Regions from separate parts of the Homo sapiens genome. Here region 2 is linked to region 1. The links come from fine-mapping of genetic effects on gene expression. A gene starts in region 1. The other region holds a variant in brackets. All regions are shown on one strand. Distances are from middle to middle. Region 1 holds the start of CLASRP (CLK4 associating serine/arginine rich protein). Region 2 has its middle 13 kb from the start of APOC1.

Evidence for each region.
Region 2: its variant is fine-mapped to the expression of CLASRP in esophagus mucosa (GTEx, PIP 0.98).

What each region holds. Positions count from the first base shown.
Region 1 is chr19:45,029,225-45,045,198 of GRCh38, forward strand. It overlaps CLASRP (CLK4 associating serine/arginine rich protein), which reads left to right and starts at 9,821. Exons shown (of 21, transcript NM_007056.3): 1 at 9,821-9,884; 2 at 10,960-11,087. The coding sequence starts at 10,989. It overlaps RELB (RELB proto-oncogene, NF-kB subunit), which reads left to right. Exons shown (of 12, transcript NM_006509.4): 9 at 3,310-3,525; 10 at 5,020-5,088; 11 at 5,227-5,304; 12 at 8,181-8,968. The coding sequence ends at 8,566. RefSeq lists an enhancer at 9,495-10,364.
Region 2 is chr19:44,919,396-44,935,369 of GRCh38, forward strand. It overlaps the pseudogene APOC1P1. Among named protein-coding and RNA genes, the nearest start is that of APOC1, 13 kb to the left of the region's middle. RefSeq lists an enhancer at 7,947-8,839. The variant C/G (reference allele first, on the strand shown) is at 7,628.

The DNA.
Region 1 (15,974 bases):
CATGCTGCAAGCTAGGCGGTGCCATCACAGAGCTCACGACATGTCCAGAGGACTCTGATGTTAAGGGTGGAATTGCATAAATGAACGCTTTACGGTGGTTCTGATAAGCGCTATGGGTAAAGCAAATAGGACAGGAGAAGCAACTCCACTTCATTCATCTCTGTTCAAATGGCCCTTCCTCAAACAGGCTTTTAAAAAAAAAAGACAGCTGGTCACCGTGGCTCAAGCCTGTAATCCCAGCAATTTGGGAGGCTGAGGTGGGTGGATCACTTGAGCTCAGGAGTTCGAGACCAGCCTGGGCAACATGGTGAAAACCCATATCTACTAAAAATACAAAAATGAGGGCTGGGCGCAGTGGCTCATGCCTGCAATCCCAGCACTTTGGGAGGCCAAGGTGGGCGGATCACCTGAGGTCAGGAGTTCGACACCAGCCTCCCAACATGGTGAAACCCCATCTCTACTAAAAAACACAAAAATGAGCTGGTTGTGGTGGCATACACCTGTAATCCCAGCTACTCGGGAGGCTGAGGCAGGAGAATCGCTTGAACCTGGGAGGCAGAGGTTTCAGTGAGCCGAGATCACGCCTCTGCACTCCAGCCTGGGCCACAGAGCAAAGCTCTGTCTCAAAAAAAAGAAAAAAAGAAAGAAAAGAAAAAGACAGCTGGGCACAGCAGCTCATGCCTGTAATCCTAGCACAGTTTTGGAGGCTGAGGCGGGCAGATCACTTGAACTCAGGAGTTCGAGACCAGCCTGGGCAACATGGTGAAACCCTGTCTCTACAAAAAATAAAAAATTTAGCAGGTGTGGTAGTGTGCACCTGTAGTCCCAGTTACTTGAGAGGCTGAGGTGGGAGGATCACTTGAGCCCGGGAGGCGGAGGCTGCAGTGAGCCAAGATTGCACCACTGCTCTCCAGCCAGGGCGACAGAGACAGACCCTGTCTCAAAAAATCAAAACCAAAAACAAACCGGCTGGGCTGGTGGCTCATGCCTGTAATTCTAGCACTTTGGGAGGCTGAGGTGGGAGGATCACTTGAGCCCAGGAGTTTGAGTCCAGTCTGGGCAACATAGCAAGCCCCCATCTCTACAAAAAAAAGTTCTTTTTAATTAAAAAATAGCCAGGCATTAGGCCGGCTGTGGTGGCTCACACCTGTAATCCCAATACTTTGGGAGGCCAAGGTGGGCGAATCACTTATGGTCAGGAGTTCAAAACCAGCATGGCCAACATGGTGAAACCCTGTCTCTACTAAAAATATAAAAATTAGCTGGGTGTGGTGGAACACACCTGTAATTCCAGCTACTTGGGAGGCTGAGGCACGAGAATCACTTGAACCTGGGAGGCAGAGGTTGCAGTGAGCCGAGATCATGCCATTGCACACCAGCCTGGGCAACACAGTGAGACTCTGTCTCAAAAAATGAAATAAAATAGCCAGGCATGTTGGGGCATGTGCCTGTAGTCCCAGCACTTGGGAGGCTGAGGTAGGAGGATTGCTTAAGTGCAGGAGTTGGAGGTTACAGTGAGCTATGATGGTGCCACCGCACTGCAGCCTGGGCAATAGAGCGAGACTCTGTCTCAAAATAGAATAAAGTAAAGTGAAGAAACTGGTTCCAGAGATATCTAGTAACTTCCCCAAGTTATAACAGAGTTGGTAGTGAAGAGTTCTAGCCTTCCTGGGTTTCCATCTTGGCTCTAACACTTGCCAGCTGTGTGACCTTGGACAAGTGACTTCACCTCTCTGTGCCTTCATTTTCGTCTTTATACAATACGGTACCTAATAGTACCTTCTTCATAGAGTTGTTGTGTGACTTAGAGGCAATCTATATGTAACTGACACATATAAAGTCTCAGTACATGGAGGTACTGTGATGACGGGCGATGCAGTAAGACAAGAAAAATAAATAGCAGGCAGAGTAGCATCATGAATCCTGACTCTTCCGCTACCAGTTGTGTGATGTCTCAACACTTTCAAGCCTCAGTTTCCGTTTTTGTTTTTTTTTTTAAGAACCAGGCTCTCGCTCTGTCTCTTAAATAGCTGGGACCACAGGCGTGCGCCACCATGCCTGGCTAATTTTTTAATTTTCTTGTAGAGACAAGGTCTTGCTGTGTTGGCCAGTCTGGTCTTGAACTCCTGGCCTCAAGTGATCTGCCAGCTTTAGCCTCCCAAAGGGCTGGGATTACAGGTGTGGGCCACTATGCCTGGACAGGCACCTTTTTTCTCTGCTGACTGTGCCTGGTATCCTTTTGCCATAACAGATCATAGCTGTGAGTATGACTGTATGCTGTCTTGTGAGTCCTCTTACTGAACCACCTGAGGGTGATCTTGAGGATCCCTGGACATGAGGGGGATATTAATTCTTTTGTTTGTTTGTTTGAGGCGGAGTCTTGCTCTGTCCCCCAGGCTGGAGTGCAGTGGTGCGATCTTGGCTCACTGCAAGCTCCGCCTCCCGGGTTCACGCCATTCTCCTGCCTCAGCCTCCTGAGTAGCTGGGACTACAGGCGCCTGCCACCATGCCCGGCTAATTTTTTTGTATTTTTAGTAGAGACGGGGTTTCACCATGTTAGCCGGGGTAGTCTCGATCTCCTGACCTCGTGATCCGCCTGCCTCGGCCTCCCAAAGTGCTGGGATTATGGGCGTGAGCCACCGTGCCTGGCAAGGGGGATATTAATTCTACCTACCTCTTAAATTGTTATAAGGATTAAATGAGATAATATATATAAAAATACATAAAACAAGGCCGGGTTTGGTGGCTTACATCTGTAATCCCAGCACTTTGGGAGGCCAAGGCGGGCAGATCACGAGGTCAGGAGAGCGAGACCATCCTGGCCAACGTGGTGAAACCCCGTCTCTATTAAAAATACAAACATTAGCTGGGCGTGGTTGCACATGCCTATAATCCCAGCTACTCGGGAGACTGAGGCAGGAGAATTACTTGAACCAGGGAGTTGGAGGTTGCAGTGAGCCGAGATCATGCCACTGCACTTCAGCCTGGAGGCAGAGTGAGACTCCATCTCAAAAACACACAAACAAAAAAAAACCAAAAATAAAATTAGCCGGGCGTGGTGGCATATGCCTGTAATCCCAGCTATTCCGGAGGCTGAGGCAGGAGAATTGCTTGAACCCGGGAGGCAGAGGTTGCAGTGAGCTGAGATCGCGCCATTGCACTCCAGCCTGGGCAACAGAGCAAGACTCTCAAAAAAAAAAAATTTTAAAAAGGGGGAATATTAGTCTTGATTTTAGGGGAGGCTGGGCAAGTTGGGAGCACAGTGGTCCAGATGTCCTGGCTTAGCTGATGTCCCCCGTTTCCTGCCAGAGGACATATCAGTGGTGTTCAGCAGGGCCTCCTGGGAAGGTCGGGCTGACTTCTCCCAGGCCGACGTGCACCGCCAGATTGCCATTGTGTTCAAGACGCCGCCCTACGAGGACCTGGAGATTGTCGAGCCCGTGACAGTCAACGTCTTCCTGCAGCGGCTCACCGATGGGGTCTGCAGCGAGCCATTGCCTTTCACGTACCTGCCTCGCGACCATGGTAACTACAGCAACCCAGGGTGACCCACCACCTCGGAGACTAGGTCTTTGGCCTTGGGGAGACCCCAGTGGGGATGGGAAAGAGGCAGAACTAGAATGCAGGCTCAGAGCTACAAAGACAGTGTTCAGATCCTGGCTCTGCTGCTTACTGGTTGTGTGACCTTGGCCTCTCTGAGCCTCATTCTTCTGTGCAAAATGGAAATAATAGTAGCTGTCCTGTGACATTTGGAGAGTATTTAATCTTTCCTCCCCTCAGCATCCTGCACATGCCCGGGCCTGTGCTCGGTATTGCTAGAGACACAGCAGTGACCAGCACGGCCCCTAGCTGTGTCCTCATGAGGCTTATAGTCCTGAGGATAGGGGACAGCCTGTCCCTACAGAGTGATGACCAGAGTGGGCAGGACTGGAATGAAGTGCTCAAGGGCTCACATTGCCCAGAGGGGGTACCTGACCCAGCTGTAGGTGTCAGGGAATGCTTCTTGGAGGAGGGGACAGCTGAGCTGAGGACAGGAGGATGACTAAGCAGGGAAGTTTTCTAGGGAAATAGTGAGAGTGGAGGAAGAGTGCTTTAAACAGCTGGAACAGCAGGTGCAAAGGTCCTGAGGCCGGATTGTGCCTGGGGTGCTCCAGGAACAACAAAGAGGCCAGTGTGTAGGCCGGGCGCAGTGGCTCATGCCTGTAATCACAGCACTGTGGGAGGCTGAGGCAGGCGGATCACCTGAGGTTAGGAGTTCGAGACCAGCCTGAACAACATGGCGAAACCCCGTCTCTACTAAAAATACAAAAATTAGCCGGGCGTGGTGGTGGGCGCCTATAGTCCCAGCTACTCGGGAGGCTGAGGCAGGAGAATTGCTTGAACCCGGGAGGCAGAGGTTGCAGTGAGCCAAGATTGTGCCATTGCACTCCAGCCTGGGCAACAGAGCAAGACTCACTACAGGCACCCGCCACCATGCCCGGCTAATTTTAGTATTTTTAGTAGAGACCGGGTTTCGCCGTGTTGGTCAGGCTGGTCTCGGACTCCTGACCTCAGGTGATCCGCCCACTTCAGCCTCCCAAAGTGCTGGGATTGCAGGAGTGAGCCACCACGCCCAGCCAAGACTCCATCTTTAAAAAAAAAAAAAATAGGCCTGGCACAGCAGCTCACACCTGTAATCCCAACACTTCGGGAGGCCAAGGCAGGCAGATCACTTGAGGTCAGGAGTTCAAGACCAGACTGGCCAACATATAGTGAAATCCCATCTCTACTAAAAAAATACAAAAATTAGCTGGGCGTGGTGGCGCACACCTGTAATCCCTCCTACTTGGGAAGCTGAGGCAGGAGAATCACTTGAACCTGGCAGGCAGAGGTTGCAGTGAGCCAAGACCGTGCCACTGCACTCCAGCCTGGTCAACAGAGCAAGACTGTCTCTAAAAATAAATAAATAAATAAATAAATAAAGGAATTAATTATTATTGATGAATTACTTCTTGTGTGTCCCTGGTATCTCCTTAACAGACAGCTACGGCGTGGACAAGAAGCGGAAACGGGGGATGCCCGACGTCCTTGGGGAGCTGAACAGCTCTGGTGTGTGCCCTCTGCCCCTTTCCACCCCCATCCCCAGGTTCTGGGGAGGGGACAGCTGACCCCACTGCCCTGTCCCACCCCAGGCTGGGGAGGAAGGGCTGTCGGGGAACAGGGGTCCTCATCTCTGCCTTCCCTCAGACCCCCATGGCATCGAGAGCAAACGGCGGAAGAAAAAGCCGGCCATCCTGGACCACTTCCTGCCCAACCACGGCTCAGGTGGGTCCCAGCTACACATAAGCCCCTGTCCCCTGGGTGGGCAGAGGGTAAGTGGCAGCCCTGCTTTTCTGGCCTCTTCACGCCCTCCAAGAGCAGCCACAAGGCGAGTCACTCAGCACTTAGCCAGCAACATAGAGTAGAAAGAATGAGGGCTTTGGAGACAGAATGGAAGTTCTGATCTCTTCTGGGCCATTTCCTTGCTATGTGAACTTCATTAAGTTGTTCTACCTCTCAGAGCCTCAGGGACTCCTTTGAAAAGGCCCAGTACATACTTAGCTCAGTGGTGTTTTAAAATTTGATCTATTTCTTCTTTCTTTTTTTTTTTTTTTGGAGATGGAGTCTCGCTCTGTCGCCCAGACTGCAGTGCAGTGGCATGATCTCAGCTCACTGCAACTTCTGCCTCCTGAGTTCAAGCGATTCTCCTGCTTCAGGCTCCCAAGTAGCTGGGACTAAAGGCATACACCACCACACCTGGCTAATTTTTGTATTTTTTAGTAGAGACGGTGTTTTACCACATTGGCCAGGCTGGTCCTGAACTCCTGACCTCAGGTGATCTGCTTGCCTCAGCCTCCCAAAGTGCTGGGATTACAGGCATGAGCCACTGCATCCCACCTATGATCACATTTAACTGCATTTACAGCAAAACCCAAAATAACAGGGGCTTCAACAGGATAGAACGTTATTTCTTGTCTCACATACATAGTCTGTAGGGACTGAAAGTGGCTCATGCCTGTAATCTCAGCACTTTGGGAGGCTGAGGCAGGTGGACTGCTTCAGTCCAGGAGTTTGAGACCAGCCTGGCCAACGTGGTAAAACCCTGTTTCTACTAAAAATACAAAAATTAGCCGAGTGTGGTGGTGCACACCTGTAGTCCCAGCTACTTGGAGGCTGAGGCAGACAAATCACTTGAACCCAGGAGGTGAAGGTTGCAGTGAGCCAAGATTGCACCACTGCACTTTAGCCTGAGCAACAGAATGAGACCCTTCTCAAAACAACAACAACAACAACAACAAAACAGGCCTGGCACTGTGGCTTACGCCTGTAATCCCAGCACTTTGGGAGGCCAAGGCAGGTAGATCACGAGGTGAAGAGAGAGAGACCATCCTGGCCAACATGGTGAAACTCCATCTCTACTAAAAACACAAAAATTAGCTGGATGTGGTGGCACATGCCTGTAGTCCCAGCTACTTGGGAGGCTGAGGCAGGAGAATCATTTGAACCCAAAAGGTGGAGGCTGCAGTGAGCCAAGATGGTGCCACTGTGTTCCAGCCTGTCAACAGAGCAAGACTCCGTCTCAAAAACAAGAAACAAAAAACAGTCCATAGGTAGGTGTTCCAGGGATGGTCTGGTGACTGCATGATCATCGAGAGACCGAGGCTTCTGCCATTTTCAGTTCGCCAACTCATGGTGCAAGGTGGCTGTTGTAGCTCCAGCCATTACGCCCACGTTCCAGTTAGCAGACCTTAGTCACATGATCACATCAGGCTGCAAGGAAGGCTAGAAAATAGTCCCTTGTGTCTCTAAGGTTTGTCTTGTTCCAAAAAGAGAGTCCCTCTTTTTTTTTGAGATAGTCTTGCCCTGTTGCCTAGGCTGGAGTGCAGTGGCACAATCTCAGCTCACTGCAATGTCCACCTCCCAGGTTCAAGTGATTCTCCTGCCTCAGCCTCCTGAGTAGCTGGGATTACAGGTGCCCACCACCATGCCCTGCTAATTTTTGTATTTTTGGGAGAGAAGGGGTTTCGCCATGTTGGCCGGGCTGGTCTTGAACTTCTGACCTCAGGTAATCTGCCCGCCTCGGCCTGCCAAAGTGCTGGGATTACAGGCGTGAGCCACCATGCCTGGCCTGAGAATCCCTCTTATAATGAAACTTTTTGATTTGATTGTTATTTTTTCTTAAGTCCCCATTATGCCTGAGAATGACATTTATTTTTTCTGACAATTTTGGGACTGGTGACTTCCCAACTTGTGTCTCCCATGGTCTGGAGATTTCACTTTTTGGGTTGTCTCTGTATGTTGGGGGGCTTTGGAACCTCTTCTCCTTTCTCACTCTCAGGGAAAACTCTCCACAGCTGTGTAGGAGCATGGTTTCAACCCCAGTTCCACAACAGCTGTGTGAGCCTTCCATTTACTTTCCCTCAGTGCCTTAGTTTACTTATTATTAATTATTTTTAGAGATAAGGTCTTGCTCTGTTGCCCAGGCTGGAGTGCAGTGGTGTGATCATACTTCGCTGCAGCCTCAAACTGGGCTCAAGCAATCCTCCTGCCTCAGACTGCCAGGTAGCTGGGACTACAGGCGGGCACCACCACACCCAGCTAACTTTTAAATAATTTTTTTGTAGAGACAGGGTCTCGTCACGTTGTGCTGGGATTACAGGTGTGAACCACCACGCTTGGCCTTCAATTTACTTATTATCTGAGAATGGTGATAGTCCCACACGGATTCTCCTTGGGATTAAGAGGGCACCTAAGGCCAGGCTTGGTGGCTCACACCTGTAATCCCAGCACTTTGGGAGGCCGAAGCAGGTGGATCACCTGAGGTCAGGAGTTCGAGACCAGCCTGGCAAACATGGTGAAACCCCGTCTCTACTAAAAAGATAAGAATTAGCTGGGCATGGCACATGCCTGGCCTGTAGTTCCAGCTACTCAGGAGACTGAGGCAGGGGAATCAACTTGAACTGGGGAGGCAGAGGTTGCAGTGAGCCAAGAGCACGTCATTGCACTCCAGCCAGGGTGACAGAATGAGACTCCATCTCAGAAAAAAAAAAAAAAAGGCCACCTTGATATCACATTTTGCAGGGAGTAGGGCATTTGATTTAGGGCCTGATCAGAAGTTAGCCCTAAATCACACTACACTTCTCTTGTCTTCATCCCCGTAGGCCCGTTCCTCCCGCCGTCAGCCCTGCTGCCAGACCCTGACTTCTTCTCTGGCACCGTGTCCCTGCCCGGCCTGGAGCCCCCTGGCGGGCCTGACCTCCTGGACGATGGCTTTGCCTACGACCCTACGGCCCCCACACTCTTCACCATGCTGGACCTGCTGCCCCCGGCACCGCCACACGCTAGCGCTGTTGTGTGCAGCGGAGGTGCCGGGGCCGTGGTTGGGGAGACCCCCGGCCCTGAACCACTGACACTGGACTCGTACCAGGCCCCGGGCCCCGGGGATGGAGGCACCGCCAGCCTTGTGGGCAGCAACATGTTCCCCAATCATTACCGCGAGGCGGCCTTTGGGGGCGGCCTCCTATCCCCGGGGCCTGAAGCCACGTAGCCCCGCGATGCCAGAGGAGGGGCACTGGGTGGGGAGGGAGGTGGAGGAGCCGTGCAATCCCAACCAGGATGTCTAGCACCCCCATCCCCTTGGCCCTTCCTCATGCTTCTGAAGTGGACATATTCAGCCTTGGCGAGAAGCTCCGTTGCACGGGTTTCCCCTTGAGCCCATTTTACAGATGAGGAAACTGAGTCCGGAGAGGAAAAGGGACATGGCTCCCGTGCACTAGCTTGTTACAGCTGCCTCTGTCCCCACATGTGGGGGCACCTTCTCCAGTAGGATTCGGAAAAGATTGTACATATGGGAGGAGGGGGCAGATTCCTGGCCCTCCCTCCCCAGACTTGAAGGTGGGGGGTAGGTTGGTTGTTCAGAGTCTTCCCAATAAAGATGAGTTTTTGAGCCTCCGGGGTTTCGTCTGTTCTGGGCTTGGGAAACGCCCTAGTCCCTTAGTAGCAAAGAAAGCCTCCAGGCTGGGGGCTCAGGCCTGTCATCCCAGCACTTTGGGAGGCCAAAGCAGGAGGATCGCTTGAGCTCACGAGTTTGAGACCAGCCTGGGCAACATGACGAAACCTAGTCTCTACAAAAAATACAAAAATTAGCCGGGCGTGGTGCTGCGCGCCTGTAATCCCAGCTACTCTAGAGGCTGAGGTGGGAGGATCGCTTGAGCCCAGGAGGTGGACGTTGCAGTGAGCCAAGACCGCACCACTGCACTCCAGCTTGGGCGACAGCGCGAGGCTGTGTCTCAAAAAAATAAAAAATGAAAATGAAAATAAAAAATGAGACCGGGCATGGTGGCTCATGGCTGTAATCCCAGCACTTTGGGAGGCCGAGGCAGGTGGATCACCTGAGGTCAGGAGTTTGAGACCAGCCTAACCAAAATGGTGAAACCCCATCTCTACTAAAAATACAAAAATTAGCCGGGCTTGGTGGCGCGCGCTTGTAGTCCCAGCTACTCGGGAGGCTGAGGTGGGAGAATAGCTGAAACCCAGGAGGCAAAGGTTGCAGTGAGCCTAGATCGCGCCACTGCCTTCTAGCCTGGGAGACAAAGAGAGACTCCGTCTCAAAAAAATAAAATTAAATAAATAAATAAAATAAAAAAGATAAAAAGATAAAGCATCCAAGCTCTTCCCTTCTCCGCTCTCCCACTTCTTCCTCGGGATCCCGCCCCTCTCGACTCTAGGACCCGCCTCTCTCGTCGGCGGAAGTGCGCTGCGCGGCCCTCCACCATGCTCCGCCCCCTCCCCCTAGCGCGGCCTTTCATTTCCGCTTCCGGTGCGGGCCGCGCGCGAGCGCAGCGGTGGGAGGCGGCGACCAGCCGGTGAGTGCAGGCTGCGGCTCGACCTCCCGGTTTTCGGGCAGGCCTCAGCCCAGCTTCTCCCTTTCCTCAGGCTCTCCCCATGCTGCTGTGGGCTTCTGCTGCGTCCCGGCCCCGAGGATCGCTCGTCCCTCACCCCATTAGGCCTGACGGGCCTCAGGCCGAGCCCGTGCCCCGGCTGTGGGCCAGAAGTTGCCGCGTCGAACTCGGCCTTCGGCCCAGCAGCTTATCACAGGCCCCGCCCCCTTGTCAAAAAAAAAAACAACAAAAAAAAAACCCAGCCCAAATCCTCAGGCCGCGACGCGATCCACAAGCCCCGTCCAAACCTTCGGTCTCCGCCCTTTCCCGCAAGCCCTGCCCCCAAGCTCAGCCCACGCCCTCCTGTCAGCCAGCTCCGCCTCTCTCAGGCTCTACGCTCTTTTTCTTTGGATGCTCTCCCCACCCCGCCATCTAGATCCCATCTTTAGACCTCAGCTTCACTCTGGTCTCCTTGCAACACTCCCTCCCCGTGTTCCCACTCCCTCTAGCATCTTCATCTTCCGCCACGCCCTTCACCTGTCCTCGACCTCCACCTTCATACAACTGCACTGTTCCCTTAAAAGCTTTCTCCGATTTCCTCCACCTGCCTTCATCCTTATTCTCCTTATCCCTCTACCACCCAGACTCATACCCAACCCCACGCATGGCCCCTAGTGGGAGCCTTTTCAGTTCTTCTCTTTCTCTTGAGCTCCAGCCTTAAGTGCTCAGGGTTTGCCTTCTGACCCTACTTCAAACACTGCTGATGTTTCAAAACCTTTCATTCCCGACTCCAGCGCGTGGAATCTAGGACACCCCTTTCCCAGTGATGCTCACCTCAGAATCACCTGAGGGTTTTTCAGAATGCCCAAGCTTCTAGATCGAAGTTGTTAGGGATGGACTTGAACATCTGGCATACTGTTCTGCAGCTTCACTTCTGCTCCCTGAAGCTAAGAGATGTGTTGTTTGGGATCGACTCTGCCACCAACTTGTTAGATGACTTTGATTCTGCCCATACGGGTTTCACAGACCATCTGACTTTCCTGGTCCCTTCATCCCTCAGGTTGAGGCCCCAGGCTTGGCCTCACCACAATGTGGCACGAGGCTCGGAAGCATGAGCGGAAGCTTCGAGGCATGATGGTCGACTACAAGAAGAGGGCGGAGCGGAGACGGGAGTATTATGAAAAGATCGTGAGTAACTGGCCTTTTGTCTGGGGTGAGGGACCCTGGGTTGGGGGGCACAGCTGGTCATCCTGGTAAAATCTGGGCTTGGAAGTATGTCAAGACAAGAGGCTCATTTCCTCAGGAGTATATTCATTAATCTTTTCTTGAGGATAATCATTGGTGGGATCCCAAGGGCTTCTGTTTGTTGTAGCATACTGTGTCGTTTGGTGTGGCCTCCCAGTGCCGATCCGGTGTTAGCAAGAAAAAGGGAAGTCTCTGTAACCCTCAGAGCAGTCCTGACGTTAGACTGGCCACCTCCAGAATGTCTGTTTCGCTTATTGCTGTGTTCCCCATTCCCAGAAGAGCTCAGCCACTCTTGAGATTTGGCTTGGCACACAATAGGAGTGAGTATTAAGTTGGCCTGGCACAGTGGCTCACGCCTGTAATCCCAAGTGGATCACCTGAGGTCACGAGTTCGAGACCAGCCTGGCCAAAAGGGTGAAACCCCATCTCTACTAAAGATACAAAAATTAGCCAGGCTTAGTGGTGTGTGCATGTAGTCCCAGCTACTTGGGAGGCTGACGCACGAGAATTGCTTGAGCCCGGGAGGAGGAGGCTGTAGTGCATGGAGATTGTGCCACTGAACTCCAGCCTGGGTGACAGAGCAAGACTCAACGCCTGTAATCCCAGCACTTTGGGAGGCCGAGGTGGACAGATCACAAGGTCAAGAGATCGAGACCGTCCTGGCTAACACGGTGAAACCCCATCTCTATTAAAATACAAAAAATTAGCCAGGTGAGGTGGCGGGTGCCTGTAGTCCCAGCTACTCGGGAGGCTGAGGCAGGAGAATGGTGTGAACCGGGGAGGGGGGCAGAGCGGAGCCTGCAGTGAGCTGAGATAGCACCATTGCACTCCAGCCTGGGCGACAGCGAGACTCTGTCTCAAAAAAAAAAAAAAAAAGACTGTCTCAAAAAAAAAGGAGTGAATATTAAGTGAAACCTGACCACTTCCCTCTCCTGTCTGATGCTTCAGTTGTTTTTGCGGGGAAGACCAAACTATCCCTGGCCTAAAAGACCCTTGTGGTCTGACCACTCAGCTTCATACTCGGACAGCTCCACTGGCCTTCTATTTCTGCCACCACAGGGCTTTGGCCTATATTACCCCCCCTCACCTATTTAACTCCTGTGTATCCTTGGGATCCCAGCTTGAAATGGCACCTGTTTTCTAGGTTCAGTGTTCCTGTCAGATGACATTTATATAGACCTTTCCCAGTTATTCCTGTATTACTGCCCCAGCCTCCTCCCTGGTCTGCTGGCCTCCAGTCCTGGCTCCTCCAGTCTGTCCTTCCTAGAAGAGTCCAAGAGGCCTTTCTAAAGCACAAAACTGACCCTGTCCCTTCGTTGCTCAGAGCACCTCTATGCCTCCTAAGTGCCCTTGAGAGAAAGCCCAGGCTCCTCACTGTGGCCTTTAGGGTCCTGCATGGCCTGGCCTTTGCCCTTCCTCCAGACTCACACCACCCCACACTCTGCCTTGTTCCTTTGCACAAGTCATTTTGGCCTCCTTGCTATTCCTCCACTGACCCAAGCGCTCCCCAGCCACAGGACCTTTGTATGAGCTCTTCCCATACCTGGTTAACTACTGCTTATCTGTCAGATCTCAGTCCTCAGAGAAGTCTTGTTTCCCAAGCTCAGTCAGGTGTCCTCTAAAAATGCCATAATCATAGCTCCCTTTCCTTCCCCTTTGTGGAATTTAACACACTTAAGATACACATACATGGGCCTGGTGTGGTGGCTCACGCCTGTAATCCCAGCATTTTGGGGGCCAAGGCAGGTGGATCACCTCAGGTCAAGAGTTTGAGACCAGCCTGGCTAACATGATGAAACCTCGTCTCTACTAAAAATACAGAAATTAGCTGGAGGTGGTGAGGAGCCTGGGCTTTCTCTCAAGGGCACTTAGGAGCCATAGAGGTGCTCTGAGCAATGAAGGGACAGGGTCAGTTTTGTGCTTTAGAAAGGCCTCCTGGACTCTTCTAGGGAGGACAGACTGGAGGAGCCAGGACTGGAGGCCAGCAGACCAGGGAAGAGGCTGGGGCAGTAATACAGGAGTAAATGGTAATCCCAGCTACTCGGGAGGCTGAGGCAGGAGAATTGCTTGAACCCGGGAGGCATAGGTTGCATTGCTCTCCAGCCTGGGCAACAGAGTGAGACTCCATCTCAAAAAAAAAATTTATATATATATATATATGTGTGTGTATGTATGTATACACACACGCACACACATACGCATACACAGGTTGAACATCCCTAATTCAAAATCCGAAATGCTCCAAAATCTTTTTTTTTTTTTGAGGCAGAGTCTTGCTTAGTCGCCCAGGCTGGAGTGCAGTGGCATGATGTCAGCTCACTGTAACGTCCACCCCCCAGGTTCAAGCTATTCTCCTGCCTCACTCAACCTCCTGAGTAGCTGGAATTACAGGCATGTGCCACTATGCCTGGCTAATTTTTGCACTTTTGGTAGAGACAGGGTTTCACCATGTTGGTCAGGCTAGTCTTGAACTCCCGACCTCAAGTGATTTGCTTGCCTCGGCCTCCCAAAGTGCTGGGATTACAGGCGTGAGCCACCACGCCCGGCTAGCTCCAAAATCTGAAACTTTCTGCATACTGACATGATGCCCCACTATAAGTGGAAAGTTTCACATATAAGTACTTTACACAAACTTTGTTTCATGCACAAAATTATTTAAAATATTGTATACAATTACCTTCAGGCTGTGCTTATAAAGTATAAATGAATTTGGTCTTTGGACTTGGGTGCCATCCCTAAGATATCTCATTATGAATAGACAAATATTCCAAAATCTGAAAAAATCTGAAGCACCTCTGATCCCAAGCACTTCAGATAAGGAATACTTTGTGTGTGTGTGTGTGTGTGTGTGTGTGTGTGTGTGTGTGTCCCGTCTCTACTACAAATACAAAAAATTAGCTGGGCGTGGTGGTGGGCACCTGTACTCCCAGCTACTCGGGAGGCTGAGGCAGGAGAATGGCATGAACCCGGGAGACAGAGCTTGCAGTGAGCCGAGATAGTGCCACTGCACTCCAGCCTGGGCGACAGAGCGAGACTCCGTCCCAAAAAAAAAAAAAAAAAAAAAAATTTTTTCCATTCATACGTATATGCACATACCCAGCTCTGTGAGACTGGGGACTAATTATATTTGGGTCACGTTTGTACCCTAGGGTTGGGTCCATCAAATATGGTTTGAAAGAATAGATGAATAAAACAATATTAACAATAGTAATTAACCATTTAATTGATCCTTCGCAGGCACCCCCAGGCCATGTGAGAGATGCAGGATTTTTTTTGAATCCCCACAGTCACCTGTGAGACAGAGACCGCTCTTACTTCCACTCAGCAGAGAAGAGGAAGCTCTGAGAGCTCCTTGCTTACCTCTGCCACCCAGGAAGGAACCACGGGGCTAAAGGGAGAACTCATCTCCGATAGTGTCAGAAAGATGTGATCATCAAGGCAAGGCCTGGGTCTCTGTTGGTCATAGTTGAGGCCCCAGAAGTGGCCTAGGAACACAGCACTCAGGAATGAATAGCTACCTTTTTTTTTTTTGAGATGGAGTCTGGCTCTGTCGCCCAGGCTGGAGTGCAGTGGCACGATCTCGGCTCAGTGCAACCTCCGCCTCCCGGGTTCAAGCAATTCTCCTGCCTTAGCCTCCCAAGCAGCTGAGACTATAGGTGCCCACCACCACGCCCGGCTAATTTTTGTATTTTTAGTAGAGACAGGGTTTCACCATATTGGCCAGGCTGGTCTCAAACTCCTGACTGCAAGTGATCCGCCTGCCTTGGCTTCCCAAAGCGCTGGGATTATAGGCGTGAGCCACCACACCCAGCCTAGCTGCCATTTATTAAGGGCCCATGGTGCGCCAGACCCAGTGCTCACCAGCTTGGCATAGTAGTCCTCTGAACAGGCCTGCGAGGTAGGTATTGATCATGCCTGTGTTAAAGGTGATGCCACGATAACAGCTAACGCTGTTGGGCAGTTCTGTGGTAACCACTGTGCTAACTACTTGGCTTGTGTCTCCGCTTCATCAAAGCCACACCCAAGACTAGGAGGTGGTTCTTACTATTTCCATTTTACAGAGGACAAAACTGGAGCACGGAGATACGTGGCTTACAGTCACATAGCATGAGGGCAGAGCTGGCACTATAACCCAGTCTCTGACCCTTAACCTCTCTAAGCTTTTCACCTGCGCCTTATCATGCAGAAATAGAGGTTCAAAAAGATGAGGCATAGCAAGACCCCATCTCTGCAAAAAATAATAAAAAAAAATTAGCCAGGTTTGGTGGCATGCGCCTGTGGTCCCAGCTACTTGGGAGGCTGAGGCAAGATGAGACCTGGGAGGGTGGGGCTACAGTGAGCTGTGATTGCACCACTGCACTGGAACCTGGGTGACAGAGTGAGACCCTGTCTCAAAAAAGAAAGGTGAGGTGACTTGCCCAAGGCAACACAGCCAGGAGGTGAGATCCCATCATGGTTAGTCCTTAGAATTTGGGAGTCATGGGGCTCTGGGTTCAAATTCTAGCGATCCCACTTATCTATAGTGTGACGTGGGCAAGTGACTGCCTCCCTGAGCCCATTTCCTCTTCCACATGTGAAAGGATGTCACATGGACAATCAGCTTTGGCTCTAACAAACCTAGAGCATCCGTCAGTGGCTTAAACAAGATAGATGTTTATTTCTTAGCCACAGAAAAGCCAAGAGGTAACCAGTTAGCTCGGGGACCTAAGCCGCTTCTGTTTTGTTCTCCTGGGCACAGCTTCTCTTCCTAGTGTTGCATCGAGGTCTAAGAGGCTCTGGCCATCATGTCTTCATTCTATCCAGCAGGGAGGAAAAAGGGAGGAAAAGGGG
Region 2 (15,974 bases), 110 kb before region 1:
TAGGGGCTTCCAGAGAGGGCAGGGTCTGCAGGAGAGGGCAGGGGCTAAACCTTAGGTACTCCTCACAAGCCCTCCAATGCCCTATCTACTTGCCCTGTGCTGAGGATGTTTTAACTCCATGGTCTCAAAAGAGTCTTCCTAAGAACCCTGCAAACTGGGCCTTATTAATCCCATAAGGGCATTGAGGCCCAGAGAGGTGAAGTTACTTGTATAAGGTCACACAGCCAGGAAGTAGAGAACTGGAACTAGATTGAACCCTCAGCCTAGCAATGTCACTATGCTACACTTTTCCTAGTGTGGTCTACCCGAGATGAGGGGCTGAGGTTTTTTTTTGTTTTTGTTTCTGTTTTGAGGCAGACTCACTCTCTCCCCCAGGATGGAGTACAGTGGTGCGATCTCAGCTCACTGCAACCTCCACCTCCCAGGTTCAAGAGATTATCCTGCCTCAGCCTCCCAAGTAGCTGGGATTTACAGGTGTGCGCCACCACACCCAGCTAATTTTTGTATTTTTAGTAGAGACAGGGTTTCATCATGTTGGCCAGGCTGGTCTCCAACTCCTGGGCTTAAGCAATCCTCCTGCCTTGGCCTCCCAAAGTATTAGAATTACAGGCGTGAGCCACTGTGCCTGGCTCTTATGTAAAATTAAACCACATACACATGAGAAACAACCCTATGTAATTAAGATTTCTTTCTTTTTTTTTTTTTTTTTAAGAGATGGAGTCACCCAGGCTGGAGTGCAGTTGCACAATCTCCATTCACTGCAGCCTTGCAACCTCCACCACCTGAGTTCAAGGGATTCTCCTGCCTCAGCCTCCTGAGTAGCTGGGATTATAGGCATGTGCCACCACGCCCAGCTAATTTTTTTGTATTTTTAGTAGAGACGGAATTTCCCCATGTTGGCCAGGCTGGTCTCAAACTCCTGGCCTTAAATGATCCACCCGTCCTGGCCTCCCAAAGTGCTGGGATTACAGGTGTGAGCCACCGCACCCAGCTTAAGATTTCATAAGAAAAATATTTGTAAGCCACATATCTAATAACCGGTTAATATTCAGGCTGGGTGAAGTGGCTCATGCCTGTAATCCCAGCACTTTGGGAAGACAAGGCGGGCGGATTACCTGAAGTCAAAAGTTTGAGACCTGCCTGGCCAACATGGTGAAACCCTGTCTCTACTAAAAATACAAAAAAATTAGCCGGGTGGGGTGGCACATGCCTGTAATCCCAGCTGCTTGGGAGGCTGAGGCAAGAGAATCCCTTGAACCCAGGAGTCGAAGGTTGCAGTGAGCCAAGATGGCGCCACTGCCCTCCAGCCTGGGAGACAGAGTGGGACTCCATCTCAAAAAAAAAAAAAATTCAAAATGTATAATATACAATCCTAGTTGGGACATCAAACACTGCAGCCACTGTGGAAAACAGTATGGGGTTTCCTCAAAACATTAAAGATAGAACTCTCAAATGATCCTTCAATCCCACTTCTGGGTATTTATTCAAAAGAATTGAAATCAGGACCTTGAAGAGATACCTGCCCTCCCATGTTCACTGCAGGTCTGCTCAATACCCAAGATATGGAAACAACCTAAATGTTTATCAACAGATGAATGGGTCAAGGAAATGTGGTCTCTACATGTAATGGAATGTAACGCATCCTTAAAAAGGAAACCCTAAGGCCGGGCTCTGTGGCTCACACATGTTTTTTTTTTTAAATTTTATTTATTTATTTATTTATTTATTTATTTTTTATTGATCATTCTTGGGTGTTTCTCACAGAGGGGGATTTGGCAGGGTCATAGGACAATAGTGGAGGGAAGGTCAGCAGATAAACAAGTGAACAAAGGTCTCTGGTTTTCCTAGGCAGAGGACCCTGAGGCCTTCCGCAGTGTTTGTGTCCCTGGGTACTTGAGATTAGGGAGTGGTGACGACTCTTAACGAGCATGCTGCCTTCAAGCATCTGTTTAACAAAGCACATCTTGCACCACCCTTAATCCATTTAACCCTGAGTGGACACAGCACATGTTTCAGAGAGCACAGGGTTGGGGGTAAGATCACAGATCAACAGGATCCCAAGGCAGAAGAATTTTTCTTAGTATAGAACAAAATGAAAAGTCTCCCATGTCTACTTCTTTCTACACAGACACGGCAACCATCCGATTTCTCAATCTTTTCCCCAACTTTTCCCCCCTTTCTATTCCACAAAGCCGCGATTGTCATCCTGGCCGGTTCTCAATGAGCTGTTGGGCACACCTCCCAGACAGGGTGGTGGCCGGGCAGAGGGGCTCCTCACTTCCCAGTAGGGGCGGCCGGGCAGAGGCGCCCCTCACCTCCCGGACGGGGTGGCTGCCGGGCGGAGAGGCTCCTCACTTCTCAGACAGGGCGGTTGCCAGGCAGAGGGTCTCCTCACTTCTCAGACGGGGTGGCCGGGCAGAGACGCTCCTCACCTCCCAGACGGGGTCGCGGCCGGGCAGAGGCGCTCCTCACATCCCAGACGGGGCGGCGGGGCAGAGGCGCTCCCCACATCTCAGACGATGTGCGGCCGGGAAGAGGCGCTCCTCACTTCCTAGATGGGATGGCGGCCGGACGGAGACGCTCCTCACTTCCCAGACTGGGCAGCCAGGCAGAGGGGCTCCTCACATCCCAGACGATGTGGCTCACGCATGTTATCCCAGCACTTTCGGAGGTCAAGGCAGGAGGATCACTTGAGGCCAGGAGTTGGAGACCATCTTGGCCAACATGGTGAAACCCCGTCTCTACTAAAAATACAAAAAATTAGCCAGGCGTGCGCCTGTAATCCCAGCTACTCAGTAGGCTGAGGCATGAGAATCGCTTGAACCCAGGAGGTGGAGGCTGCAGTGAGCCGAGATCATGCCACTGCACTCCAGCCGGGGCATCAGAGCAAGACTCAATCTCAAAACATAAAAGGAAATCCTGAAACTGGGCACAGTGGCTTATGCGTGTAATCCCAGCACTTTGGAAGGCTGAGGTGGGAGGATCACTTGAGGTCAGGAGTTCGAGACCAGCCTGGGTAACATGGTGAGACACCATCTCTACCAAAAAAAGAAGAAAGAGAATAAATAAATGTATAAATATTACTCCCTGGGGTTAATGCATCCCCTTCTCCCCCAAATCAACCCTCCAAACTCCTATACTCTCCTGTCTTCTCACTCAGCAGCCTGTTAGAACTCAAGTCAGATTTTTTGTTTTTTGTTTTTTGAGACGGAGTCTCACTCTATTGCCCAGCCTGTGCAGTGGCACCATCTCAGCTCACTGCAACCTCTGCCTCCCAGGTTGAACCGATTTTCCTGCTCAGTCTCCCAAGTAGCTGGGACTACAGGCGTGTGTGTGCCACCACACCCAGCTAATTTTTGTATTTGTAGTAGAGACGGGGTTTCACCATGTTGCCCAGGTTGGTCTCGAACTCCTGAGCTCTAGCAATTAGCCCTCCTTGGCCTCCCAAAGTGCTGGGGTTACAGGCATGAGCCACCATGGCCGGCCTCAAGTCAGATTATGCTCTTCCTCTGCTCAGAACTCTCCTGATTCTCTCAGAGTAAACCCAGAAGCACTTACCAAGGCCTACAAACGGGACACTATGCCGTCCACGATCGCCTCCTCCCTGTCTCTCTCTCCATCACTCACAAGCAACTCTTTGCTATTCCTCCAATGTACTGGGCAGGTTCCCATCTCAGGGCCCTTGCAGTTACTGTTCCTCTTGCCTGGAATGTTCTTCCCCAGGGGTCCAGATATCTGCCTGGCTCCCTCCTCACTTCCTCCAGTTCTCTTCCAAAATCATCCCCTGCCAGACGTGGTGGCACACGCCTGTAATCCTAACTCTTTGAGATGCCAAGGTGGGAGGATTGCTTCAGCTCAGGAGTTCAAGATCAGCCTGGGCAATAGCAAGACCCCATCCGTTCTAAAAATAAAAATAAATAAAAAATAAAAAATAAAAATTAGCTGAGCATGGTAGTGGACACCTTGGGGTTCCAGCCACGTGGCAGGCTGAGGTAGGAGGATGGCTTTGAATCAGGGAGGTTGAGGCTGCAGTGAGCCATGTTCTGAATTAGATACTGGTGATGATCGTGCAACCTTCCCAATATAGGAAAAACCACTGAACAGTACATTTTCAAAGGGTAAATTTAGCCGGACACGGTGGCTCATGTCTGTAATCCCAGCACTTTTGGAGTCCGAGGCGGGCAGATCACCTGAGGCTGGGAGTTCAAGACCAGCCTGACCAACATGGAGAAACCCCGTCTCTACTAAAAATACAAAAAATTAGCCAGGTATGGTGGCGCATGCCTGTAATCCCAGCTACTCCAGAGGTTGAGGCAGGAGAATTGCTTGAACCCGGGAGGCAGAGGTTGTGGTGAGCCGACATCACACCATCGTACTCCAGCCTGGGCAACAAGAGCGAAACTCCGTCTCAAAAAAAAAAAAAATAATTAAGAAATTAGCCAGGCGTGGTGGTGGGTGCCTGTAGTCTCAGCTACTTGGGAGGCTGAGGCATGAGAATCGCTTAAACCCGGCGGGTGGAGGCTACAGTGAGCCTAGATTCCACCACCGCACTCCAGCCTGGGCAACTGAGTGAGACTCCACCTCAAAAAAATAAATAAAAGGGTAAATTTTATGGAATGTGAATCATAATTCAATTTTTCAACATGCGTTAGGAGGGACATTTCAAACTCTTTTTTACCCTAGACTTTCCTACCATCACCCAGAGTATCCAGCCAGGAGGGGAGGGGCTAGAGACACCAGAAGTTTAGCAGGGAGGAGGGCGTAGGGATTCGGGGAATGAAGGGATGGGATTCAGACTAGGGCCAGGACCCAGGGATGGAGAGAAAGAGATGAGAGTGGTTTGGGGGCTTGGTGACTTAGAGAACAGAGCTGCAGGCTCAGAGGCACACAGGAGTTTCTGGGCTCACCCTGCCCCCTTCCAACCCCTCAGTTCCCATCCTCCAGCAGCTGTTTGTGTGCTGCCTCTGAAGTCCACACTGAACAAACTTCAGCCTACTCATGTCCCTAAAATGGGCAAACATTGCAAGCAGCAAACAGCAAACACACAGCCCTCCCTGCCTGCTGACCTTGGAGCTGGGGCAGAGGTCAGAGACCTCTCTGGGCCCATGCCACCTCCAACATCCACTCGACCCCTTGGAATTTCGGTGGAGAGGAGCAGAGGTTGTCCTGGCGTGGTTTAGGTAGTGTGAGAGGGTCCGGGTTCAAAACCACTTGCTGGGTGGGGAGTCGTCAGTAAGTGGCTATGCCCCGACCCCGAAGCCTGTTTCCCCATCTGTACAATGGAAATGATAAAGACGCCCATCTGATAGGGTTTTTGTGGCAAATAAACATTTGGTTTTTTTGTTTTGTTTTGTTTTGTTTTTTGAGATGGAGGTTTGCTCTGTCGCCCAGGCTGGAGTGCAGTGACACAATCTCATCTCACCACAACCTTCCCCTGCCTCAGCCTCCCAAGTAGCTGGGATTACAAGCATGTGCCACCACACCTGGCTAATTTTCTATTTTTAGTAGAGACGGGTTTCTCCATGTTGGTCAGCCTCAGCCTCCCAAGTAACTGGGATTACAGGCCTGTGCCACCACACCCGGCTAATTTTTTCTATTTTTGACAGGGACGGGGTTTCACCATGTTGGTCAGGCTGGTCTAGAACTCCTGACCTCAAATGATCCACCCACCTAGGCCTCCCAAAGTGCACAGATTACAGGCGTGGGCCACCGCACCTGGCCAAATTTTTAATTTTTTTCTAGAGATAGGGTCTTACTGTGTTGCCCAGGCTGGTGTCAAACTCCTGGGCTCAAGCAGATCCTCCTGCCTCAGCTTCCCAAAGTGGTGGGATTATAGGTGTGAGCCACTGCGCCCAGTCAGTAGCCCCCTCTTTGCCCCTCACTGAGCCCTACTGGATGTTCTTGGTTGTGTGACAGTTTCCCCATCTATTAAACAGAAACCCCTATAGCAGAGGGGAGGATGAGGTTGGAAAATCAGGAGCATTGTTATTCTATTCTTGTGGGATCGGGGAAGCAGACATCTGGGTGGATGTTTGGGGAATGCTGGGCTCAGTTGAGGAAGTAGGGGGGCCCCTGGGGCTTACAGGGACTGGAAGCTCTGAGCTGGCCAGAGGGATGTTGCAATCCTGCCAGGGTCTTGTCTATGCTGTCCCTTTCACAACCATCCCCCTACCGCCAGGCTGACACGTGGTTGTGGGGGCACAAGGCCAGCCGAACTAGAGTCTGAGGCTGGGCTGAGGACACCCTCCCCATCAGCTGCCAGGGTCACTGGCGGTCAAAGGCAGCTGGTGGGGAAGGAATTGGACTCCAGCCCTGGGGGACGGATGTGGTGATGGTGGGAAGCAGGCTTGGTGCCAGGAGGGGCATCAGAGGGTGAATAAGAGCAGATAGAGTGTTTGGGGGAGGTAGCCAGCCAAAGGGGGTGAGGCCCGGTGGAAGGGAAGAAGGGGCATACACTCAGAGCTTTGCAGCTGAAGGTTTTAATTTTTTGAGATGGGGTCTCACTCTGTCTCACCAGGCTGGAGTGCAGTGGCGCAATCACAGCTCACTGCAGCCTCGAACTCCTGGGCTCAAGCAATCTTCCTACCTCAGCCTCTTGAATAGCTGGGACTACAGGTGTGCGCCACCACGCTCAGCTAATTTTTGAACTTTTTTGTAGAGATGAGGTCTCCCTATATTGCCCAGGCTGGTCTCTTAACTCCTGGGCTCAAGTGATCCTCCTTCCTCAGCTTCCCAAAGCGCTGGGATTACAGGCATGAGCCACCATGCCTGGCCAATGCAGGTGAGGTTTTTAGTGTCCAGCTAAGGCGACCCCTTCCCTTTGCAAAAAAGGGAGACTGAAAATCATCAAGTTAAGAGCCCAGAGAATATCAGGGTGGTCTGGGATGTTTCAAGGGCTGGTCTGAAAGAAATTGGAGGTGGCACGCAGGGCAGGGTTGCGGGGCCAACTGGGAGGCCCCAGCAACATAAAGGAAAAGTTGTTGGGGCTGAGGAGGCTTGCTGAGAGAGGGGAAGTGAGGGAAAGAGGTGATCTAGGGACACGGTGTGAATGAGGGGGGGATGAGATCACAGGGTTATTACTGGGAGACCCCTGAGGGAAGATGGCCACAGGGACAGGACGAGGCTGTCCTCTGAGTGGGGAAAGGAGCTATGGTAGTCTGAGGACCCCCCAGAGTCAGGGAGATTGGGAGGTGAGGGTGCTGAATGGTAAAGGGCTTCGGAGCTAAGGGAAATGGTCAGGACCCCACCTGACCCCAACGCCCACGGGCCAGGGGCAGAGGAGAAAAACCTGGGTGGGCAGAAGGAGGCAATCTTCCAGGGGAAGGCTCAGGAGGAGGGAGATCAACATCAACCTGCCCCGCCCCCTCCCCAGCCTGATAAAGGTCCTGCGGGCAGGACAGGACCTCCCAACCAAGCCCTCCAGCAAGGATTCAGGTTGTTGAGTGCTTGGGAGGGACACCCGCCTCCACTCTGCAAGAACTCATAAAGGGAGATGAGGGGATCGTGGGAGGGAGGGAGGAGGGTGCCACTGATCCCCTGAACCCCTGCCTCCGCCTCCAGGGTGCCCCTCCGGCCTCGCCATGAGGCTCTTCCTGTCGCTCCCGGTCCTGGTGGTGGTTCTGTCGAT[C/G]GTCTTGGAAGGTAAAAGTGGGATGGGAGAATTGCGGAGTTGGAGATTTGGAAGAGTGAAGGTGGCTACAGGCCTGGGGTCCCGGCTTAGAGGACCTCTGAGAGCTCTGGGGCCCCTTCTTGGTCGTGGTTGCCCCATTGTGGTCGAGTGGGTCTCCAGGTTCGCCCAGGCTCAGTCCGGCAGGCGCCAAATCTGCCCAGGAGAGCCCTAGTAACCGATGACGTATGGATCTCCACACCTCTGGGATTGGCTGTCCTCCTTTTATAGCCTTGAAAGTGGGTGATGGGGCGATGGGCTGTGGGAGGAGGTCAGTGCTGAGTAAGGCAATTCCCAGCGGCTTGAGCCCCACGCGGTCACTTCAGTATCCTCCCCATTCTAACCACATGATCCCCAAGGATCTCCTTATCTATCCCCGGGATCCCACCCCAAGGGGGTTCCAATAACAAATTTTTGGTGGGGCGTGGCGGCTAATGCCTGTAATCCCAGCACTTTGGGAGGCCGAGGCGGGCAGATCACTTGAGGTCAGGAGTTCGAAACCAGCCTGGCCTACATGGTGAAACCCCATCTCTACTAAAAATACAAAACAGCCAGGCGTTGTGGTGCGCGCTTGGCTACTTGGGAGGCTGAGACAGGAGAACTGCTTGAACCTAGGAGGCGGAGGTTGCAGTAAGCCGAGATCGCACCATTTGACACAGCAAGTCTCCGTCTCAAAACTACAACAACAACAACAACAACAACCAAATTTTGCACCCCTGCCTCATCTTCCTGGCAGGCCCAGCCCCAGCCTAGGGGGCTCCAGAAGTCTCCAACCCCTTTGATGGCCTGGAGGAGTTAGGAAAGACCCTGGAGGACTACACTCGGGAATTCATCAACCGCATCACACAGAGTGAACTTCCTGCCAAGATGTGGTTAGAACCCTTCCCAGGGCACGGGAGGGCTGGGGTGTGTTTGTGTGGAGCCCTGGAGGATGTCCAAGATGAACAGATTGAAAAAAAAAACAAGTCCCAGAGAGGCTGACAGCATCCTTCTGGTCACACAGCTAGATCTCAAGGATCTCAGACGTCAGGGACAGTTTCCCGGACTCCCATCCAGGCCACATTTTAAAAGATGGTCTTGGGCTGGGCGCCGTGGCTCACACCTATAATCCTAACACTTTGGGAGGCCTAGGCGGGCGGATTGCCTGAGATCAGGAGTTCAAGACCAGCCTGGCCAACATGGTGAAACCCTGTCTCTACTAAAAGTACAAAAAATTAGCCTGACATGGGGGTGTGCACCTGTAATCCCAGCTACTCGGGAGGCTGAGGCAGGGGAATTGCTTGCACCAGTAAGGTGGGGGTTACAGTGAGCCAAGATTGCACCACTGCACTCCAGCCTGGGCAACAAAGCAACATTCCGTCACAAAAGAAAAAAAAAAAAGATGGTTTTGCTTAGGTACGGTGGCTCACACCTGTAATCCCAGCACTGTGGGAGGATTGCTGGAGCCTAGGAGTTTGAGACCAGCCTGGCTAACATGGCGAGATCCTGTCTCTATTTTTTTTTTTTTTTTTTTGAGACAGAGTCTCGCTCTGTTGCCCAGGCTGGAGTGCAGTGGCGCCATCTCGGCTCACTGCAACCTCTGCCTCCCCAGTTCAAGCAATTCTCTGCCTCAGTCTCCTGAGTAGCTAGGATTACAGGCGCCCACCACCACGCCCGGCTAATTTTTTTGTATTTTTAGTAGAGATGGGGTTTCACCATCTTGGCCAAGCTGGTCTTGAACTCCTGACCTTGTGATCCACCCGCCTCAGCCTCCCAAAGTGCTGGGATTACAGGTGTGAGCCACCATGCCCGGTGATCCTGTCTCTATTTAAAAAACAAAACAAAACAAAACAAAACAAAAAGCATACAAGCCAGCCCCGGTGCGATAGCTCATGCCTGTAATCCCAGCACTTTGGGAGGCTGAGTCGGGCAGATTACCTGAGATCGGGGGTTCGAGGCCAAGTTGGGCAGATCACCTGAGGTTGGGAGTTTGAGACCAGCCTGACCAACATGGAGAAACTCCGTCTCTATTAAAAATACAAAATTAGTCAGGCATGGTGGTGCATGCCTCTATTCCCAGCTACTTGGGAGGCTGAGGCAGGAGAATCACTTGAACCTGGGAGGCGGAGGTTGCAGTGAGCTGAGATAATGCCATTGCACTCCAGCCTGGGCAATAAGAGCGAATCCACGTCTCAAAAAAAAAAAAAAAAATTGAAAAAAAAAAAGATGGTCTTGTGGGGTAATGAAGGACACAAGCTTGGTGGGACCTGAGTCCCCAGGCTGGCATAGAGCCCCTTACTCCCTGTGTGATCTTAAGAGAGAGGCATTACTGTGAGCCTCAGTTTCCTTTCCTGTGAAATGGTGGTTCTGTGGGGAAGTAAAGCAGAAGGCCTATAGGGTGTCTGGCACATTGTAAATGCTCAGTACATCTTCAAATCCACACTTGCTCCCTTTGGCAAGTTAGAGAGTCATTCGTTCCTCAACACATATTTATTGAGCATCTGCTAAGTGCTAGAAACTGTTTCAATGTGGGGAATAAAACAGTGAAGAATATGCCGAGCGCGGTGGCTCACACCTGTAATCCCAGCACTTTGGAAGGCTGAGGTGAGTGGATCACTTGAGGTCAGGAGTTTGAGAACCCCATCTCTACTAGAAATACAAAAAATTACCCAGGCGTGATGGCACACACCTGTAGTCCCAGCTACTTCGGAGACGGAGGCAAGAGGATCACTTGAGCCCAGGAGGTTGAGGCTGCAGTGAGCTATGTTTGTGCCACTGCATTCCAGCCTGGGTAACAGAATGAGACCCTGTCTCATCCAAAAAAAAAAGAAAGAAAGAAAGAAAGAAAGAAGGAAGGGAGGGAGGGAGGGAGGGAAAATCTAGTCAGGCCTAAACTTAGAAAGATTGTTTGGAGGCCAGGTGCAGTGGCTCATGCCTGTAATCCCAGCACTTTGGCAGGCTGAGGCGGGCAGATCACCTGAGGTCAGGAGTTTGAGACCAGCCTGACCAACAAGGAGAAACCCTGTCTCTTCTAAAAAAAAAATACAAAAAATTAGCCAGGCATGGTGGTGCATGCCTGTAATCCCAGCTACTCAGGATGATGAGGCAGGAGAATTGCTTGAACCTGGGAGCTGGAGGTTGCGGTGAGCTGAGATCGCGCCATTGCACTCCAGCCTGGGCAACAAGGGCATAACTCCGTCTCAAAAAAAGAAAGAAAGAAAGAAAGATTGATTGTTTGGAGGGAGAGGCAAAGGTCCAAAGTCAAGAAGGTCGATCAATAAGCAAGAGCGGGTGGCATCCCAGGCAGGGGAACAGCCTGGGCATACGCAGGGAGGCTGGAAAGTACCTTTGAATGAGTAGGGGAACAGATAGGGCAAGGGCAGGCTGGAAGAAAGAGTGGGTAGCAAGAGATGGCAGGCCTTGAAAGCCAGGCCAGAGTGAAGTTTTCTTTTCTTTTCTTTTCTTTTGAGACGGAGTCACGCTCTGTTGCCTAGGCTGGAACACGGTGGTGTGATCTCAGCTCATTGCACTCTCCACCTCCCAGGTTCAAGCAATTCTCCTGCCTCAGCCTCCTGAGTAGCTGGGATTACAGGCGTGCACCACCACGGGTGGCTAATTTTTGTAATTTAGTAAAGACGGGGTTTTGCCATGTTGGCCAGGCTGGTCTCGAACTCCTGACCTCCAGTGATCTGCCTGCCTCGGCTTCCCAAAGTGTTGGGATTACAGGCGTGAGCCAAATGCCCAGCCAAGGGTAAAGTGTTTAGACTTCAACGTGCTTTGGTCCACCTGGGAAACTGAGGCACAGAAGTTGGCCCACCCAGCCCAGCGGTCCTCCTAATCCCACAGACAGTGGGGATGGAGATTCAGCAAGGGGAAGAGGTGGGAGTCAGGTAGCAGGTAGAATTTGAACAGCCTGGGAGGTAGCTGCACACAGTGACCCCCTTCCTTATTCCTCCCCACAGGGATTGGTTTTCAGAGACATTTCGGAAAGTGAAGGAGAAACTCAAGACTGACTCATGAGGACCTGAAGGGTGACATCCCAGGAGGGGCCTCTGAAATTTCCAACACCCCAGCGCCTGTACTGAGGACGCCCTCCATGTGTGTCCAATGTGGTCACACGCCCAGGTGTGACCAATAAAAATCCTATGGAAAATTCTCTCTGGCCAGGCATGGTGGCTGACGCCTGTAATCCCAGCACTTTGGGAGGCTGAGGCGGGCGGATCACAAGGTCAGGAGATTGAGCCCATCCTGGCTAACACGGTGAAACCCCGTCTCTACTAAAAATACAAAAAAAATAGCCAAGCGTGGTGGCAGGCGCCTGTAGTCCCAGCTATTCGGGAGGCTGAGGCAGGAGAATCGCTTGAAACCGGGAGGTGGAGCTTGCAGTGAGCTGAGATCGTGCCACTGCACTGCAGCCTGGGTGACAAGAGCCAGACTCCGCGTCAAAAAAAAAAAAGAAAAGAAAATTCTGTCTGACTGCTTCTTCACTGTGGGGCAGGGGTGCCGGAGAGGGTAGGGGCTGTGGGAGAGGGCAGGGGCTGAACCTTACGGACTCCTCACAAGCCCTCCAATGCCCCATCTACTTGCCCTGTGCTAAGGATGTTTTAACTCTATGGTCTCAAAAGAATCTTCCTAAGAACCTTGCAAACTGGGACTTAATAATCCCATAAGGGCATTGAGGCCCAGAGAGGTGAGGCTACTTGTATAAGGTCACACAGCCAGGAAGTGGAGAACTGGAACTAGATTGAACCCTCAGCCAGGCAATGTCACTATGCTACACTTTTCCTAGTGTGGTCTACCCGAGATGAGGGGCTGAGGTTTTTTGTTTTGTTTTGTTTTGTTTTGAAACAGAGTTTCGCTCCTCTTGCCCAGGCTGGAGTACAATGGCACCATCTCAGTTCACTGCAACCTCCGCCTCCCAGGTTCAAGGGAGTCTCCTGCCTCAGCCTCCCAAGTAGCTGGGATTGCAGGTGCGTGCCACCATGCCTGGTTAATTTTTGTATTTTTAGTAGAGACGAGGTTTCTCCATGTTGATCAGGCTGGTCTTGAACTCCTGACTTCACATGATCTGCCTGCCATGGCCTCCCAAAGTGCAGGGATTACAGGCATGAGCCACCTCGCCTGGCCTTTTTTTTTTTTTCTTGAGACAGAGTCTCACTCTGTACCCCAGGCTGGAGTGCAGGGGCATGATCTCGGCTCACTGCAACCTCCGCCTCCTGGGTTCAACAGATTCTCCTGCCTTAGCCTCCCTAGTATCTGGGATTACAGGTGTGTGCCACCACACCCAGCTAATTTTTGTATTTTTAGTAGAGACAGCATTTTATCGTGCTGGCCAGTCTGGTCTCCAACTCCTGGATTCAAGCAGTCCTCCTGCCTTGGCCTCCCAAAGTGGTGGGATTACAGGCGTGAGCCACTGTGCCCAGCTCTTACGTAAAATTAAACCACATGCACATGCAAAACAACCCTATGTAAAAAAAAAATTTTTTTTGAGATGGAGTCTGGCTCTGTCACCCAGGCTGAAGTGCAATGATGCGATCTCCACTCACTGCAACCTCTGCCTCCCAAATTCAAGTGATTTTTTTGCCTTAGCCTCCTAAGTAGCTGGGATTACAGGCATGTGCCACCACACCTGGCTACTTTTGTTGTATTTTTAGTAGAGACAGAGTTTCACCATGTTGGCCAGGCTAGTCTCGAACTCCTGACATCAAGTGATCCGCCCGCCTTGGCATCCCAAAGTGTTGGGACTACAGGTGTGAGCCACTGCGCCCAGCTTAAGATTGCATAAGAACAATATTTGAAAGCCATATATCTAATAAGGGGTTAATATTCAAAATATATAAGGGACTCCTACAATGCGAGTGGGAACACCAAACACTGCAGCCACTGTGGAAAACAGTATGGGGTTTCCTCAAAACATTAAAAATAGAACTACCAAATGATCCTGCAATCTCATTTCTGGGTATTTATTCAAAAGAATTGAAATCAGGACCTTGAAGAGATACCTGCCCTCCCATGTTCACTGCAGGTCTGCTTAATACCCAAGATATGGAAACAACCTAAATGTTTATCAACAGATGAATGGGTCAAGGAAATGTGGTCTATACGTGCAATGGAATGTAAAGCATCCTTAAAAAGGAAACCCTGAGGCCGGGCTCTGTGGCTCACACATGTTATCCCAGCACTTTCGGAGGTCGAGGCAGGAGGATCACTTGAGGCCAGGAGTTGGAGACCATCCTGGCCAACATGGTGAAACCCCGTATCTACTAAAAATACAAAAAAAATCAGCCAGGCATGGTGGCGGGTGCCTGTAAACCCAGCTACTCAAGAGGCTGAGGCAGGAGAATCACTGGAACCCAGGAGGCGGAGGCTGCACTGAGCAGAGATCGTGCCGTTGCACTCCAGCCTGGGCGACAAGAACAAAACTCCATCTCAAAAAATAAAAAAAGGAACTCCTGAAGCCAGGCTCGGTGGCTCCCACCTGTAATCCCAGCACTTTGGGATGCCAAGGCAGGAGGATCACTCGAGGCCAGGAGTTGGAGACTATCCTGTCCAACATGGTGAAACCCTATCTCTACTAAAAATGCAAACATTAGCCAGGCATGGTGGCGTGTGCCTGTAATCCCAGCTACTTGGGAGGCTGAGGCGTGAGAATAGCTTGAACCAGGAGGTAGAGACTGCAGTGAGCTGAGATCATGCCACTGCACTCCAGCCTGGGCGTCAGAGCAAGACTCCATCTCAAAACATAAAAGGAAATCCTGGGCCGAGCGCAGTGACTCACGCCTGTAATCCCAGCACTTTGGGAGGCCGAGGCAGGTGGATCACAAGGTCAGGAGATCGAGACCATCCTGGCTAACATGGTGAAACACTGTCTCTACTAAAAATACAAAAAATTAGCTGGGCATGGTGGCGGGCGCCTATAGTCCCAGCTATTCGGGAGGCTGAGGCAGGAGAATGGCGTGAACCCGGGAGGCAGAGCTTGCAGTGAGCCAATATTGCGCCATGCATTCCAGCCTGGATGACAGAGTGAGACTGTGTCTCAGGAGAAAAAAAAAAAAAAAAAAGGAAATCCTGAACCTGGGCATAGTGTCTTATGCCTGTAATCCCAGCACTTTGGAAGGCTGAGATGGGAGGATCAGTTGAGGTCAGGAGTTCAAGACCAGCCTGGGTAACATGGTGAGACACCGTCTCTACCAAAAAAAGAAGAAAGAAAGAGAATAAATAAATTATAAATATTACTCTCTGGGGTTAATGCATTCCCTTCTCCCCCAAAATCAACCCTCCAAACTCCTATACTCTCCTTTCTTCTCACTCAGCAGCCTGTTAGAACTCAAGTCAGATTTTTTGTTTTTTTGTTTTTTGAGGCGGAGTCTCACTCTGTTGCCCAGGCTGGAGTACAGTGGCACCATCTCAGTCCACTGCAACCTCTGCCTCCCAGGTTCAAGCGATTCTCCTGCTCAGCCTCCCAATTAGCTGGGACTACAGGTGTGTGTGTGTCACCACACCCAGCTAATTTTTGTATTTGTAGTAGAGACGGGGTTTCACCATGTTGCCCAGGCTGGTCTCAAACTGCCCAGCTCTAGCGATCTACCCTCCTCGGCCTCCCAAAGTGCTGGGGTTACAGGCATGAGCCACCGTGCCCAGCCTCAAGTCAGATTATGCTCTTCCTCTGCTCAGAACTCTCCTGATTCTCTCAGAGCAAACCCAGAAGAACTTACCAAAGGCCTACAAACAGGACACTACCCGGTTCACGATCGCCTCATCCCTCTCTCTCCATCACTCACAAGCAACTCCTTGCTATTCCTCCAATGTACTGGGCAGGTTCCCACCTCAGGGCCCTTGCAGTTACTGTTCCTCTTGCCTGGAATGTTCTTCCCCAGGGGTCCAGATATCTGCCTGGCTCCCTCCTCACTTCCTCCAGTTCTCTTCCAAAATCATCCCCTGCCAGACATAGTGGCACACTCCTGTAATCCTAACCTTTGAGAGGCCAAGATGGGAGGATTGCTTCAGCTCAGAGGTTCAAGACCAGCCTGGGCAACATAGCAAGACCCCATCCCTCCTAAAAAAAATTAGCTGGGCATGGTGGTGCACACTTGTGGTTCCAGCCACTTGGGAGGCTGAGGTAGGAGGATGGCTTTGAATCAGGGAGGTTGAGGCTGCAGTGAGCCATGTTCCAAATTAGATAGTGGTGATTGTGCAACCTTGCCAATATAGGAAAAACCATTGAACTGTACACTTTAAAAGGGTAAATTTAGCAGGACGCGGTGGCTCACGCCTGTAATCCCAGCACTTTGGGAGTCCGAGGCGGGCAGATCACTTGAGCTCAAGAGTTCGA